Regions from separate parts of the Homo sapiens genome. Here region 1 is reported to be linked to region 2. Evidence: microRNA targets listed by miRTarBase, many of them from high-throughput screens and not tested one by one. Region 2 holds a microRNA gene; the other region holds the end of a gene's coding sequence.
Evidence for each region. The annotated mature microRNA hsa-miR-1237-3p reads UCCUUCUGCUCCGUCCCCCAG and lies in region 2 at 1,388-1,408, shown strand. An mRNA with a match to its seed (bases 2 to 7 or 8) in the 3' UTR can be bound and repressed. Matches are read on the target gene's strand: a 7mer-m8 pairs with bases 2 to 8, a 7mer-A1 pairs with bases 2 to 7 and ends in A, and an 8mer does both.

Region 1 (3,408 bases), not on the chromosome of region 2:
TTTTTTAACAAAGTGCTTTTCTAAGATATACATACATATATAAATAGGTACAAAATAAAGTGTCAACATTAAAAAGCTCAACTATTTAAAAGCTTTTAACTATTTAACTTAAGTAGTACATATAAAACACTGAAACTCAAAGATATGGAATCTACTAAACAGATTCAAAGTCTTTTTTTTTTTGAAATGCAAGACCAAAAAATCAAATTCTGGTTTGCAGACAGGAAAAAAGTATCAAAAACCAGAATTCCTAACAGAGCAGCTAGAAAGGGGCAATTTTATAAACCTTATCAGCTGAATATCATGAGGTGATTTTCACCTGATTGCAAAACTGCCATAGTTTGAAACACTTTTCAATTTACCAGACACACTCTGTCAAGACTTCATATACTTCCAACTTGCAAGCCTGTGTTTTGCCTTCTCCAACCTAAAAAGGAAAAGCTTTAAACGATGAACTTACATTCTATTAAACCATCAGACTTGAGCTTATCATCTGTTTAGCGTGAATGTACAAACCAGGTACATTTCCACCAAACACATAGAAAAATCTTGTGCATCACAGTTCAGCTAAGGTGGTAAGACAATCCTTACAATCCTCCTTGGATTTCTTTTTTAAGATGTCAAAGAAGCAGGTAAGCAACATTGTTCATTTGTTACTGGGTGTTCTAGATCAAACCTTCACAAGCTATATATATAGCTTCATATGCTATAGCTTACAAATGGGGTAACAAAGTAAAAGAAAAGAACAAATTATACTTTGACACTTTATAGTCAAAGTATAATTAAAAAAGAAATCCTACAGTGGGTAATGGAGAAATAGATAATTTTTCCAGCAGCTATGCCTGAAATTTTTGGTATTTTTTTCCTTGCTAAATATGCTTTTTTTCTTTTTTTAGTTTTTAAGCCACCAGTTTTCAGAGTTCAAAGCACAAGATTTGAGAATAAAACAGTAAGAGAGACAGGATGGAAAAATCTGTGGGGGAAGGTTTATAATGCTGCCTTGACATAAGAAATTTCTCATCAAGAGGTAAAGCTTGAACACAGTTAAAACACTGACTAATGAAGCTGTTTTATATGAGCAAAAAAGAGCACCTAAAAACTAAATGTGTTAATGTTTCTCAATTCTAGAAACTATAGAAGAATAAGTCACATGTTAAGTTTGAAGAAGCTAGTTTGAAAATACCTGTACAAAAATATAAAAATCTATAAATTGTTTTTGTTTTAGCCTGTGTTGATCTTTGAAAATATTACATGCACAATAATACATCAATCGGAAAAGTGGCAACTAAAGAATTAGATATTTTTAGCTTTTTTCTTTCTTTACATATATATATATACATAATACAATAAAAATAATCTATTTTGTTGTCTGGTGGAAGTATACTACAATAAGCTAAATAAACATTTTAATTTTCAAAGTCAAAAACTATTTTATCAATAGCTTACTAAAATGAAATATATTAAAATTTCCTACAATAAGTGCAGAAATAAAAGACATCTAAATGGCCACCAACTTATCTACTATGGAAGCGAACTAGAGGAACAGCAAAATAATATTTGTATGTATGGATGCTCCTTCTGTAGATAATTGGACCCAAACAGAAATAAAATTCACAGTTCAGTAAGATCCCTAACCCTGACCTTTTTTTTTCTTTTTTTTCTCCTTTTTTTTCATACATTCATACAGTATCATGTAAGCTGTGCAAAACTTTACTTAGACTGGCAGTTTGCCATATCAGTTGCATTTGTCTTTGGTACAAAAAATAAAACAATCGCAATAATGTGCAAGTATTTGTCTTCTTCCGGTCAAGTACCGAAATATGAGTTTTCTAGAGCCATCTTTTTTTTGTTGTTTTTTGTTTTGTTTTTTATACAATACACAGACTCTGTGGCATATATCTACATTTCAACATAGTCCTATATACATTCAAAAAATCTGAAAAAGAGTTGGAACAAAAAAACATTTAAACCCCATAATTTTTCCATCTATATATCTTGTTTTTTCTCATTAGGGTTTTCATCATACAAAATATTACCAGTTTTAGAGTTTCCCCAAAATACAAGGCACAAAGAATATGCTTTTTTTTTCTTACTTGCACAGACATTTGTGTGTGTGTGTGTATATATATATATATATATATATATTTATATATATCATCTTGAGCTCTGACAATGAACATCTAATATGGCCCACAGGCACAAGTGCTGGGTGTGCCATATACAAGTGAGATTAATGGTTGTGGAAAATTAGAACAAAAAGCAATAATTCTAAAAACAATTTAAACCGACTGTTTAAAAAAATGCTTCCTCAATTTTTTTGTGTGGTTCAGAGCATAAATCTGCCACAATACTTGGCATTTTACTATTTCACTCCTCCAAAATGTTTTGCTTTAACAGATTTTTGTAATCTGTACCTAACATTTACTTAAACATATGATTTTCAATTCTGATGCCAGTAGCAGTTTTAATCATGGTTTATGCTCTGAAAATGCAATAATCAAGTATTTTGGATCATGCTTCACTTATGCTACTTAGTTCTTAAAACAATGTAACCTAATTGTAAATGTTTACATAATGCTAACTGACATGCAAAACAGAATGAAAATTTACAATGGATAACGTGACAAAACGCAGACATTTCTGACCAGTGGTCCAATGAGGCTGATTACACCTTTGATGTTGGTATCCTTAATCCTACAAGGCCTCCAGTGGGATTCCCTTCTGCAGTCTTCTCTAACACTTGGTTAACAAATTCTGAGGTTTGCCCAGCAACTGGTAGACCTGAAGAGAAGAATAAAAGGCACATCTAGACACAAAAATGGAAGGCCATGAAGGGAAGGGAAGGAGCTGGTAAAAACTGAGGTTCAGGTGTGGCCCTCAGCTTGATACTGGTCCCAAATGAATTCCCTGGCACTTGTTATTGCAGCTCAGAAAACAATGCTACCCTTCATATTACTGTCTAAAATTTTAAGATTAGAAAAGTCAAACCAAGGATAGCCATGAAAAATCATAAACCAACATTTAAAGTGAGGTAGATGACAAGTGTAACAGTCCAAATAACAGTCCAAACCCAAACCCAAAGGCTGCCGACAGGCACTGCTTCCCACGCCCTGGTTTTTCCCTGTTCTCTCAGCCAGTCTCTTCCAATTACTCTAAACTCACCAAGTTCCATGGGTAGGTTTCACCCATGAAACTGAAAATATAGACCTGAAGGATGTTTTGGGTCATTTTTATAATTACTGGATACAGTTTAAGTTTCCTTTTCTTCATTTAAAAAAGTGAATGAACGAATAAGAAATGTTGGAAGAGAAGAGGGAGAAAGGTGGGAGCAGCATAAGTATGTAGATTTTCTCATCTTCCTCATCTTCCATAGTAAGACCAAAAGATAAAATCACTAAATCAAATAAC
Region 2 (3,408 bases):
CCACCACTCCCAGATAATTAATTTTTTTTTTTGAGACGCAGTTTCGCTCTTGTTGCCCAGGCTAGAGTGCAATGGCATGATATCGGCTCACCGCAACCTCTGCCTCCCGGGTTCAAGCGATTCTCGTGCCTCAGCCTCCCGAGTAGCTGGGATTACAGGCATGTGCCACCACGCCTGGCTAATTTTTGTATTATTAGTAGAGATGGGGTTTCTCCATGTTGGTCAGGCTGGTCTCAAACTCCTGACCTCAGGTGATCTACCTGCCTCAGCCTCCCAAAGTACTGGGATTACAGGCGCAAGCCACCGTGCCTGGCCACAACACGCAATTAAAATGACCCTTAAAAGCTCCTCAAATTGCCAGGACATGGATCTTTAGGAAAAGCAAAGAATTAACTCTGCCTTCTTTTTGCATTTCTTCAGTAGCTCCCCTTGCAGAAGAAGCCAAAGTCCGGCTTGAAAGGGAGGAATAAGTTTTTTTTCCTCAGCGGATAGAGTTGGATTCTCATAAGCTAAGCGTGAACTCAGGCCACACTTTCAATATATTCATTGGTCCTTTCAGTGCCTTCAGCCCTTGGCACCTGGGGAGGAATAAGTGGTCACTCTGATGAGAAAGTTGGGGTCACAGGCTGGTGGGGACAGACATGGCCCCAAGTGATTATAAAACCAGGTGGAATAAAAAGTGTCCACACATCCTGTGTGTACCAGAATGCAACTGGAACACCCCCCACTGCCCCCTTGTCCAGGGTCTTGCCTTTGCCTGGTTCCCCACCAGAGTCTCCTCACCCGCACCCCCAACCCCCATGCCCATGCCCATTCCCCGGACTCCCGCCCTGCAGGGATACTCCTTTGTGGCACCCTCCATTCTCTTTGACCACAACAACGCGGTGATGACCGATGGGCTGGAAGCGCCTGGTGCTGGAGACCGGCCAGGTCGGGCAGCGGTGGCCAGGAGCGCTATGATGCAGGTGGGCTGGGCTGGGCTGGGTTGGGGGGAAATTGGTTTTAGGAGAGGCCTAGGCCCGGGGACTCTAGGCCTAGATCCAACTGGCGCCCGCAGCGTGAGCTCAGCAAGGTCCTAAGCCTCTCCGACATGGGGCGTGGCGGGGCCGCGGGGCTACCAGGTGGGACCTCTGACGCGCCGCCTTCGCCTTCGCCTTCGCCTTCGCCTCCAGGACTCGCCCTTCTTCCAGCAGTACGAGCTGGACCTGCGGGAGCCTGCGCTGGGCCAGGGCAGCTTTTCTGTGTGTCGCCGCTGCCGCCAGCGCCAGAGCGGCCAGGAGTTCGCAGTCAAGATCCTCAGTCGCAGGTGGGAGGGCCCAGGCGCGGGCAGGGGTGGGGGTGGCAGAGCGCTGTCCCGGGGGCGGGGCCGAAGCGCGGCGACCGTAACTCCTTCTGCTCCGTCCCCCAGGCTGGAGGCGAACACGCAGCGCGAAGTGGCTGCCCTGCGCCTGTGCCAGTCACACCCCAACGTGGTGAATCTGCACGAGGTGCATCACGACCAGGTGATGGCTTCCGGCCAGGGGAGGGCGGAGAGAAAAGGGGCAGGCGGCGGGGCTTGGGGGCACTATGGGCGGGATCTAGGGGTGAATTGGGCGGGGCCTAGCGTTTGATTCGGGGCCCAAAGGGACCAGGGAGGCGCAGGGAGTGGAATTTGAGGGGAGTAGGGCCTGAGGACGGGAAGGCGGAGCTGAGGATGGACAAGAAAAGGGACTTTGGCCGGGCGCGATGGCTCACGCCTGTGATCCCAGCACTTTGGGAGGTCGAGGTGGGCGGATCACTTGAAGTCGGGAGTTCGAGACCAGCCTGGGAACATGGCGAAACCCCGTCTCTACGAAAAATACAAAAATTAGCCGGACGCGGTGGCGTGCGCCTGTAATCCCAGCTACTTGGGAGGCTGAGGCACGAGAATCGCTTGAACCCGGAAGGCAGAGGTTGCAGTGAGCCGAGGTGGTGCCACTGCATTCCAGCCTGGGCGACAAAGCGAGACTGTCTCCAAAAAAGTAACAAAGAAAGAAAGAAAGAAAAAGGACTTTGAGGAGGGGGTTCTCGAACATTGGCAGGGCCCGAAGGCCGGGGGCGGGGCCTGGGTGGTGGGAGGGGGCTTGCCGCCGTGGGTGGGTGTTGACCTTGGCCCGCCACGCCGCCCGCAGCTGCACACGTACCTGGTCCTGGAGCTGCTGCGGGGCGGGGAGCTGCTGGAGCACATCCGCAAGAAGCGGCACTTCAGCGAGTCGGAAGCAAGCCAGATCCTGCGCAGCCTCGTGTCGGCCGTGAGCTTCATGCACGAGGAGGCGGGCGTGGTGCACCGCGACCTCAAGCCGGAGGTGGGCGAGCTGCCTCGGCGGCGGGGCGGAGCGGTGGCGCCGGGGGCTGCCTCTGACCACTACCCCGCCGCCCTCGCAGAACATCCTGTACGCCGACGACACGCCCGGGGCCCCGGTGAAAATCATCGACTTCGGGTTCGCGCGGTTGCGGCCGCAGAGTCCCGGGGTGCCCATGCAGACGCCCTGCTTCACGCTGCAGTACGCTGCCCCCGAGCTGCTGGCGCAGCAGGGCTACGACGAGTCCTGCGACCTCTGGAGCCTGGGCGTCATTCTGGTATGGGACGCGGTCCTTGAGGCGGGGTCAGGGTCGCTCGGACCTGGCGTCTTCCTGATGTGCAGCAGCACGAGGGAGGGGACAGGGGTCATCTTGGTGGGGGCGGCTGGGTTTCGTCCGAAGCTGGGATCGGGGTGGTTCAAATACAGAGGTGGGGTCGCTCTGGTGCTAGAGTCGGAGCATCCGGGTATTGGGGGTTAGAAGTCAGGGTTCACCACGCGTGGGTCTCAGGAGTGCCCCTAGTGGGGAGGGTGAGTGGTTCTGTGGGAGCGGAGGGGTCAGCCTCGGCACCCCAGCCTGGGCCGGCCTCACCTTCCCCTCACCCTCCTAGTACATGATGCTGTCGGGGCAGGTCCCCTTCCAGGGGGCCTCTGGCCAGGGCGGGCAGAGCCAGGCGGCCGAGATCATGTGCAAAATCCGCGAGGGGCGCTTCTCCCTTGACGGGGAGGCCTGGCAGGGTGTATCCGAGGAAGCCAAGGAGCTGGTCCGAGGTGCGGAGCTGGAGGTCATAGACCATGGTTGGGGAGGGGGACGCTGGGACAGGGATGGTCACTGGGCCAGGTGTCCTGGTTGGGGATGGGTAGGGGAGGAGAGTGGGGCTGTTACGATCTCTTTGGGGCTCAGCCTTTACGCCAGGCTCCTCCCCACACTTCCTTGCCCCGCCTCCAGGGCTCCTGACCGTGGACCCCGCCAAGCGGCTGAAGCTCGAGGGACTGCGGGGCAGCTCGTGGCTGCAGGACGGCAGCGCGCGCTCCTCGCCCCCGCTCCGGACGCCCGACGTGCTCGAGTCCTCTGGGCCCGCAGTGCGCT

Region 1: the mRNA of CREBRF is a reported target of hsa-miR-1237-3p. Seed matches in the 3' UTR shown: 8mer at 1,574-1,581.

The regions. Positions count from the first base shown.
Region 1 is chr5:173,133,003-173,136,410 of GRCh38, reverse strand. It overlaps CREBRF (CREB3 regulatory factor), which reads right to left. Exons shown (of 9, transcript NM_153607.3): 9 at 1-2,781. The coding sequence ends at 2,666. Among named protein-coding and RNA genes, the nearest start is that of BNIP1, 9.8 kb to the left of the region's middle.
Region 2 is chr11:64,367,296-64,370,703 of GRCh38, forward strand. MIR1237 (microRNA 1237) reads left to right here and starts at 1,307; the gene lies at 1,307-1,408. It overlaps RPS6KA4 (ribosomal protein S6 kinase A4), which reads left to right. Exons shown (of 17, transcript NM_003942.3): 10 at 837-965; 11 at 1,173-1,306; 12 at 1,409-1,502; 13 at 2,151-2,324; 14 at 2,404-2,598; 15 at 2,930-3,089; 16 at 3,268-3,408. RefSeq lists an enhancer at 1,864-2,383.